2 linked regions of the Homo sapiens genome follow. The protein of the gene in region 2 purifies or fractionates together with the protein of the main gene of each other region. This does not show direct contact. Each region holds a gene or a part of one and is shown on either strand. Other genes may lie near its edges.

Region 1 (4,420 bases), on a different chromosome or scaffold from region 2:
AGTTGCATATTTTGGCGGGAGAAAGCATCAATGTGAATAAGCTAACAACAATTATAATGATCTAGCATAATTATATGCTAAAATTATTTATTTATGATTTATAATACTTATAATAATTAATATTAAGCAATTAATTCATAGTTTCAGCATGATGTAACAGATGTCTTCTGGAGGCAAGAGGCCTGACAGTTCAAGGAAACTCAGAATACTAAAGGACCCAAGGAAACTGAAGGGCCTTCACTCTACTGTCCTAGTCAACAGATGTGGCCCTTGAGCAAGTTCCTCGAGTCTTTATATGTAGAGAGAGATTTATTTTCTGAAGATCATTTCATAACATGTGATTAGGAGCAGAGCTCTTCATGCAAAAAAGTACTAGGAATTAGGTGACTTAGAAAATATGGAAAGTCCCACTTGTCCCACATGTGTCACTCCTGGATGGATTGCTCCAACCTGCCCTTCCATTTCAGAGTGAGTATTAGATTTCTCCTTTAAGCTAAACAATGGCACATGGTTCTTGGTTGGGGAAGGATGCCACTGGGGCCCTCTGCCCCACTTTTGTTGGTCCCAGACTGGAAGGCTTTAAGTGACTGTTGCCCAGGAAGTTGCAATGGAGGGAGTGAGGCTAATGGTACTGTTTGGGTTGGTCAGAATATGTATTTAAAATGCTAACAGGAAGATGAACAAGAATGTCTGATGAGAAATGTGAACCAGCCAATATTGCATGGGATGGAATTTATACTTACCCCAAGAAGTTTTCTTGTGTAAAAGAACTTAGGTGGAATATCATAAACCCGGTAATACCAGACAAAGAGGAAGACGTTCAACCCCAGCCAAACCAGCTGCACAAACAGAAATAATTGCATGAAGTTTCCGCATTTCCACAGTAGATTCCACACAAGACTGGAGTCAGATAAGGGTCAGGACTTCCCCAAGTCCAACTTTGACAAAGGTAGTGACAAAGCTGGATATAACCAGCTTAGAGCCAGCTCTTTCCTCAACAGTGTCACTACACTTGTCTATAATTAAAACCTCTCCACCCTGTGTTGTTCCCCATGATTGTTTTATGATTTGGCCAGTATACCAAATTATCAGTCTTACATTACCCCACTCCCTTTTTTTCCCCTCTCTTTTGCTTAACCTTGGATAGGTAGCTGATAGCAGGCCACTCCACTTAAAATGAGAAAGGAAGGGAACATATTACTATTGCTTTCCCTCCACCAGTATGACACTGCGTTCTGTTCTCACAGGTGCTAATCACCTCCCTCTACCACACAGTAATCCAGCTAGTGAATTCTCATCAGCTAAAATGCCAAGCCTTCCATTTTCCTTGATTAGTTTTACTTAATGCTTCAAGGAGAGAATATTGAGCATAGTGAGGGGCTTGGGATTTACAACAAAAACAGCTTTCTAGATCATGACAGTTCATTTTATCCTAAGCACTGACTGGATCAAGTGGTCACACTACCCAGTTCTCTACCTTCAGCTCCATAGTGATCTTTTCTCAACTATGCTTTGAAGCTATTATATGCTCTAGACACTTGATAATATTCTCTCTTTACAAAGAAAAAAGTGCTAAAGCAACTTCCCAATTTCCTGATCTTGTCATTCTTTCTTTACTCTGACTTTCCAAGCTGTGTTTTCACTTTCAAGTGCATGAGTATATAATTTAGAAGGAGGTCATTTCCTGGGAAAAATTGTGGCGAGAGCTAAAAGTTTAATTTGAACTTACTTTCTATAGAAATTATTTGCCCTTAAAAATGGTGATAAGAAGTTAAGTTTACAGCTTCGAATACTCGGAAGAATTCTCTGTTGCAGTAGAATGTTGGTTTGGCGTAAACATTTTTTATAACAAAATATTTGTTGTTTTTATTTGTGCCACTAATTGCTTTCTATATTTAAAACTCAAAGACTCATTATTTTTCATGATAAATTTTTACAAAAGCTCCATTCATATTCCATTCATAATTGTACTTTTTAACATCTGTGTAATGCTTCTATTGGTTATTTAGAAAGGCTATTTAAAAATCGTATTTCTATCTACCCAATTTGTCCATTATTGCTTTGCTGATAACACCATTTTAAGAGAACAGTTGATTTTCTTTGTTTTAAAAAGTACAGAAATCATTCTGTCCACTTGTAAATTAGCTATATCTTTACTTACATAGTTTCTCCAGACTATATTGATTTATATATATATACAATTATATATAAATATACATACTACATATTTATGAATCTAGATGACTTATTTCAATTCTGTTCTTTTGAATTTTTATAAATCTTATAAATAACTCAAGTTTAGATCTCTGAAAAAAGAAGGTACTTGTTTTTGAAAATAAATTTGAGAAGTTTTATTATATTTAGTGTAATTACTGAAATAAAGGCCTACTTCCCATACATGAGTCAATCTTATATTTTTTATTTAGAAAATGGTATAAAATTTCAATTTGTCATTTTTAAAGTAGTATAAACACATAGACATGTGCGTCTGAGTAAACATTACTAAACAACTCAGAATCAGAGATCATTAGCATGAAATATTTTCTACTCCTTCTGCGAAATGCTGGCTAATTTATTCCTCCTAGGAATTCAGAAGTAAGCTAGAAGTGAGCCCCCAGATATGTTCTTTCCATTAAGGAATTTGGAAGAATGGACTCAGTCTGTTTACAGATAGATATAGGTTCACATGGTAAATCAGTTTCAACACAATTCCTCAAATGAACAAAAAAGCTTTGGTCTATTTTAGTTCCAAGATAACCCCGAGAAGTCAGAGAATTTATAACTTATCTCTTGTTGGTACTTACAATGACAAAAATGGAGAGCCCCTCATTCACAGCCCAGTTCCCCATGGTGGCAGAGGTTGAATGTGTTGTGTTTGCCTTTCTTCTATACTATGCTTCTTCTTCCAATGAGGAAATGAAAACAGCAGCCCTGGGGCAATCGGTTTCCTTTTCTTTTATCAGAAATTGGCTAATAATCATTGGTCAACTGAAAAGCTTGCATCCATAACAAACTTAAATCTTTAAACCTCAACAACTACAAAAAAAGGGTCTATAATGATCCAGTCACAATTAAACATAGTGGAAAATGAAACCAATTTCTACAACTAAGAGATAAATAACAGTGCATTTTAAGGGATGTATTTTACACAGTGAAATAACTTTTTAACTAACCAGCTATTTGATCACAATTTTTAAGCCACTCAACTAGACATGACTTCGTGCTGGGTAAAACACATTAAACAGGTGTGATTTTGACAGGCTGGAACAGCATTCATAGCCTTGCTGAGAAAAGTAGTAACAATTGTAATGGTTGATATTTACAAAATGCTTAATATGTGCCAATTTTATGTGCTATATATGTCTATATATGTGTGTGTGTATGTTCATGTATAGCTATCATATATATATATATATATATATATATATATATATATATAATTTGAAACATACATATATAAATACAGATGCTTTGGCCAATGATGAACCACATGTATGACAGTGGTCCCATAAGATTATAATGGTGTTGGCCAGGCACGGTGGCTCACGCCTGTAATCCCAGCACTTTGAGAGGCTGAGTGGGGTGGATCACTTGAGGTCAGGAGTTTGGGACCAATCTGGCCAACATGGTGAAACCCCGTCTCTACTAAAAATACAAAAATTAGCTGGGCATGGTGGTGGGCACCTGTAGTCCCAGCTACTCAGGAGGCTGAGGCAGGAGAATCACTTGAACCTGGGAGTCAGGTTGCAGTGAGCCGAGATTGTGTCATTGCACCCCAGCCTGGGCGACAGAGCAAGACTCCATCTCTCTCTCTCTCTCTCTCTCTCTCTCTCTCTATATATATATATATATATATACATATATATATAATATATAATATAATATATAATATATATACTTGTGTGTGTGTGCTGAAAAATTCCTACCATCTAGTGACATTGTAGCATAACACATTACTCATGTGTTTGTGGCAATGCTGGTGTAAACAAACCTACTGAGCTGCCAGTTGTAAAAGTATAGCACATACAATTATGTACATTACATAGTACTTGATAGTAAAAATAGATGACTATGTTACTGGTTCATTTATTTACTAGACTATACTTTTAATCATTATTTTAGAGTATACTCCTACTTATAAAAAAGTTAACTGTAAAAGAATCTCAGGCAGGTCCTTCAGAAGGTATTCCAGAAGAATGCATTGCTGTCATAGATGACAGCTTCATGCATGTTAGTGCCCTTGAAGACTGTCCAGTGGGGCAAAATGTGGAGGTGGAAGACAGTGATATTAATGATCCTGACTTTGTGTGGGCCTAGGCTAATGTGTATGTTTGTGTCTTAGCTTTTAACAAAAATGTTTTAAAGGTAAAATATAAAAATAAAAAATTTAAAAACAGAATAAAGCTTCTAGATATGGATA
Region 2 (4,349 bases):
CTGAAGCCAAGGACAGAGTGCTGCCCCCTTCGGCATTTACTGATGTGCCCTCTTTAAATCATGATGTTATCTAACCCAAACCCAGACCCAGGACCTAGTCACAGCTCCAACCTACACTTCCTATTAATCTTAAAACAAAGCAAAACAAAACAAAAAGATATCAGCATTGTAGCCTCCAATCTGAGCCCATTTCCCTTCTCTGGCTACCATACCTCCTTCTCCTATATGATACCATTCACTACTTTGTTCAATTATCCAGTCTAGACCTGCATCTTGAGGCCACACCCAGCCTTCTCACTCCCCACACCCCTCTTTCCTCTCTCACTGCTCCTTCCTGGTCTCTTCTCATCTGGCCCCACCTCTAAGGAGTCCTCCTGCCTTCTGGGTTGCCCTGGAAAACAGACTATCCCCCCTCCTAGTGAAGGGAGTGGGTAGGGGTTTCAGCCCCACCCTCAGGAAGATGCGTCTTCCCTGTCCTCTGCTCTGTGGTACTTCCTCTCTGGCTGATTTAGCAAACAGCACCTAGACCTGGGGCCAGGCCTTTGGCAGTGGGACAGATCCAGGGATAGGCTACACCACCCTGCCCTGACCCTGGGATTGGCATCAGCTTCCAACCAGTTCCTGCCAAAGCTTGTAAGTAAGTTTCCTGGGAGCGGCCGTGGTTGTGGTGGTGGTGGGACAGTGTGCAGCCATGAAAGAAGGTGCAAAGGAATCTCCAAAGAAAGCCTGACCAGCGTAAAAAGTTGGGAGGCTTTGTCCTTGTCACTTGTCCACTAAACTCCTCCCCTCCCTGTTATTCCTGGTTGACCCTGGGCATCTCTGGGGACAGTAGGCAGGTGATTGGGAAAGTTAATGGGATTGAGGGGCTGAGGGCCTGGCAGGGGGCAAAAAGACTGGCCTTTCAAGGGGTGCAGCATTGGTAGGAACTCTGTTTGGTTCTGGGCTTTAGGGTCTCCTAAGGGGAGGAGACTGAAAAGGTCTGGAAATGCTGCTGCTGCTGTGGTCACTGTATATTTTGCAATTGGGTCTGTGGACAGGAAGGGGCCGCATGACCCAGTTAGGAAACTAGTCTTTGTACTCAACCAGATCCCTTTAAGTTGTCAGTCTGCAGCGATGGGGGCAGTATATTTCAGGGGGACCTCTGATGCTGCTGACCCTGGAGATAGACTAGAGTTCTCAGCCTAGGTGTGTCCATGGCGTCAGGAAACCCTTGGTCCTCTACTCTCATGCGTGTGTCCGCCCTCACTCTCCAGGTCCTCCCGACGGCCATGAACACTACATCTTCTGCAGCACCCCCCTCACTAGGTGTAGAGTTCATCTCTCTGCTGGCTATCATCCTGCTGTCAGTGGCGCTGGCTGTGGGGCTTCCCGGCAACAGCTTTGTGGTGTGGAGTATCCTGAAAAGGATGCAGAAGCGCTCTGTCACTGCCCTGATGGTGCTGAACCTGGCCCTGGCCGACCTGGCCGTATTGCTCACTGCTCCCTTTTTCCTTCACTTCCTGGCCCAAGGCACCTGGAGTTTTGGACTGGCTGGTTGCCGCCTGTGTCACTATGTCTGCGGAGTCAGCATGTACGCCAGCGTCCTGCTTATCACGGCCATGAGTCTAGACCGCTCACTGGCGGTGGCCCGCCCCTTTGTGTCCCAGAAGCTACGCACCAAGGCGATGGCCCGGCGGGTGCTGGCAGGCATCTGGGTGTTGTCCTTTCTGCTGGCCACACCCGTCCTCGCGTACCGCACAGTAGTGCCCTGGAAAACGAACATGAGCCTGTGCTTCCCGCGGTACCCCAGCGAAGGGCACCGGGCCTTCCATCTAATCTTCGAGGCTGTCACGGGCTTCCTGCTGCCCTTCCTGGCTGTGGTGGCCAGCTACTCGGACATAGGGCGTCGGCTACAGGCCCGGCGCTTCCGCCGCAGCCGCCGCACCGGCCGCCTGGTGGTGCTCATCATCCTGACCTTCGCCGCCTTCTGGCTGCCCTACCACGTGGTGAACCTGGCTGAGGCGGGCCGCGCGCTGGCCGGCCAGGCCGCCGGGTTAGGGCTCGTGGGGAAGCGGCTGAGCCTGGCCCGCAACGTGCTCATCGCACTCGCCTTCCTGAGCAGCAGCGTGAACCCCGTGCTGTACGCGTGCGCCGGCGGCGGCCTGCTGCGCTCGGCGGGCGTGGGCTTCGTCGCCAAGCTGCTGGAGGGCACGGGCTCCGAGGCGTCCAGCACGCGCCGCGGGGGCAGCCTGGGCCAGACCGCTAGGAGCGGCCCCGCCGCTCTGGAGCCCGGCCCTTCCGAGAGCCTCACTGCCTCCAGCCCTCTCAAGTTAAACGAACTGAACTAGGCCTGGTGGAAGGAGGCGCACTTTCCTCCTGGCAGAATGCTAGCTCTGAGCCAGTTCAGTACCTGGAGGAGGAGCAGGGGCGTGGAGGGCGTGGAGGGCGTGGGAGCGTGGGAGGCGGGAGTGGAGTGGAAGAAGAGGGAGAGGTGGAGCAAAGTGAGGGCCGAGTGAGAGCGTGCTCCAGCCTGGCTCCCACAGGCAGCTTTAACCATTAAAACTGAAGTCTGAAATTTGGTCAACCTTGTGAGTGGGGTACATGTGCTGTGGGTATCGGGGTGCTCGTGGGCGCCCTGGTGGGGCCCCTCTCGGTAGTTGAGAGTCACGTCCTTTAGTTCCCCATGATTTACAATTTTGGAAGGGACACAAAGAAACATAGACTTCCCCCATCCCAGATGATTCCGAGTACATAGTCTGCAGATAATACTTAGCAAAACGCAGTCTACAGACTCCTAAAGCAGCTTGTCTAGGAAGACCACCCATGTGGGCTTATCACTCCAGGTTCTGTGACCCGGGACCTTCTGAGAAAACAGCACTGCTGTGAAATATCTTCCTTGAAGCCTGTGATAAGTCTCCTTGTTAGAATGACTCCAACTTCCTGCCAATAATCTTTGTCCTCTCCATAGGAGATGTTCTAGGGGATGCCTTCCTTCCCTCCATTTCACAAAGAGGCCAGACTTGAGGACTAAGTCATTAGATCTTATCCCTTAGAATTTTGCATATCAGCATCTGCTAACCTCCACAACACACCCTGGCACAGGGTGGGGCTGAGGGCCCCAGGAAACAAAGATTCCCAAAAGTGAGAGGGATGAGTCATTATTTCCTAGAGATGACTGTTGTTTTAGAGAACCTTGGTCCAACTCTGTTCTGACAAGGTTTTAGGAAGATGGCAACAACAGTGGCAGCAGTGTACTTTTTGGATCTTTCTCATAAAAAAACAAAAGAGCAAGTAAGAGAGGGAAACCAAATATCCACATGCAACATCCGCAACAAATCTAGTATGTCAAGGTTTGACATACTCCCATGGACCCCAAAGTATGAGCCAGTGAGAATGAGTCATCAATATCTCAAGACCCATATACCAGCATCTGTGCAGAAGGATGCAGAAGGAAGCAAAGGGATGTTGGATGGACCTAAGAAGAGGAGATCCCCAAGCTGTCTACAGATCCTTACTGGAAGGTATGGTGCACCAATTTGAGAACAGCAGCTGAAACTGGGAGGGACCTAACGGAGTATTTCCCAGTCCTCTCGCCCATTCTGTATGGTGAGCACATAATAGGTACTTATTTAGTGTTTGTCGAATTAATAAAGTTCAAATGACATTTCCCTGGAGATTCTTCCGGTATTTTTGAGTAGGGGGCAGGAAAGGGCAAATTTTTGTTTTGAGTCATGTGGCTAAATTCTTTATGCTTCCAAGGTGTACAAAATACTATAATCAAGTTGGCAGAGAGGCTGAGGGAGTTCTCTTCCTGAGCTTGTGAAAAAAATCACTCCCTTTCAAAATGCTTAGTCTCACATGCATGCATGTGTGCAGGCATGTGCACACACATTCACACACACACTCGCACTAAAATTGGCCTGGGAAGAAGAAGAATTCCCACTGAAGGGCAATGAGAAGGTGATCCCCAGCTATATCAGCAGCTTCAGACATCAATGGGCTCCAGACACCCCAGAGTCTCTTTATTGAGGTTCTTAGAAGGCGAGTGCAATCTCAGCCTAGGGTAGCTGAAGGAGGTCCAGTTCGTGTCAAGTCTGTGTTCAGGAAGTAGGTGCAGAGCTGCCCTTTGCCTTTCACCTTGATGACACCCCGGCTGTAGCAGGTGTAGCCCAGGGACTGTAGGGCCCATGCTGTCTCCTCAGTCACCTACAATTGGAGGGGGGCGAGGGAATATGGAGGTGGCCCTATTCTTAGTCCCCCTCCCCCTATGCCTCCAATGTGGTTCCCTCACTTGGATTTTGCCAAGGACTCCTGTACTCTCCATGCGGCTGGCCACGTTCACTGTGTTGCCCCAAATGTCATATTGCGGC

What was found.
Region 1: the proteins of LTB4R (region 2) and CYBB purify together in Homo sapiens (affinity purification with western blotting, with the first as the bait; one study listed by BioGRID). This does not show direct contact.

The regions. Positions count from the first base shown.
Region 1 is NC_000023.11:37,778,507-37,782,926, reverse strand, and holds the start of CYBB (NADPH oxidase 2), read right to left. Parts: upstream 2,869-4,420; 5' UTR 2,850-2,868; coding exon 2,805-2,849; intron 840-2,804; coding exon 744-839; intron 1-743. UniProt on the Homo sapiens protein: Catalytic subunit of the phagocyte NADPH oxidase complex that mediates the transfer of electrons from cytosolic NADPH to O2 to produce the superoxide anion (O2(-)).
Region 2 is NC_000014.9:24,314,384-24,318,732, forward strand, and holds the end of LTB4R (leukotriene B4 receptor 1), read left to right. Parts: exon of another isoform or gene 1-637; intron 638-1,253; 5' UTR 1,254-1,268; coding exon 1,269-2,327; 3' UTR 2,328-3,653; downstream 3,654-4,349. Other genes in the region: ADCY4 (adenylate cyclase type 4), read right to left, coding at 4,033-4,185, 4,271-4,349. UniProt on the Homo sapiens protein: Receptor for extracellular ATP > UTP and ADP. The activity of this receptor is mediated by G proteins which activate a phosphatidylinositol-calcium second messenger system.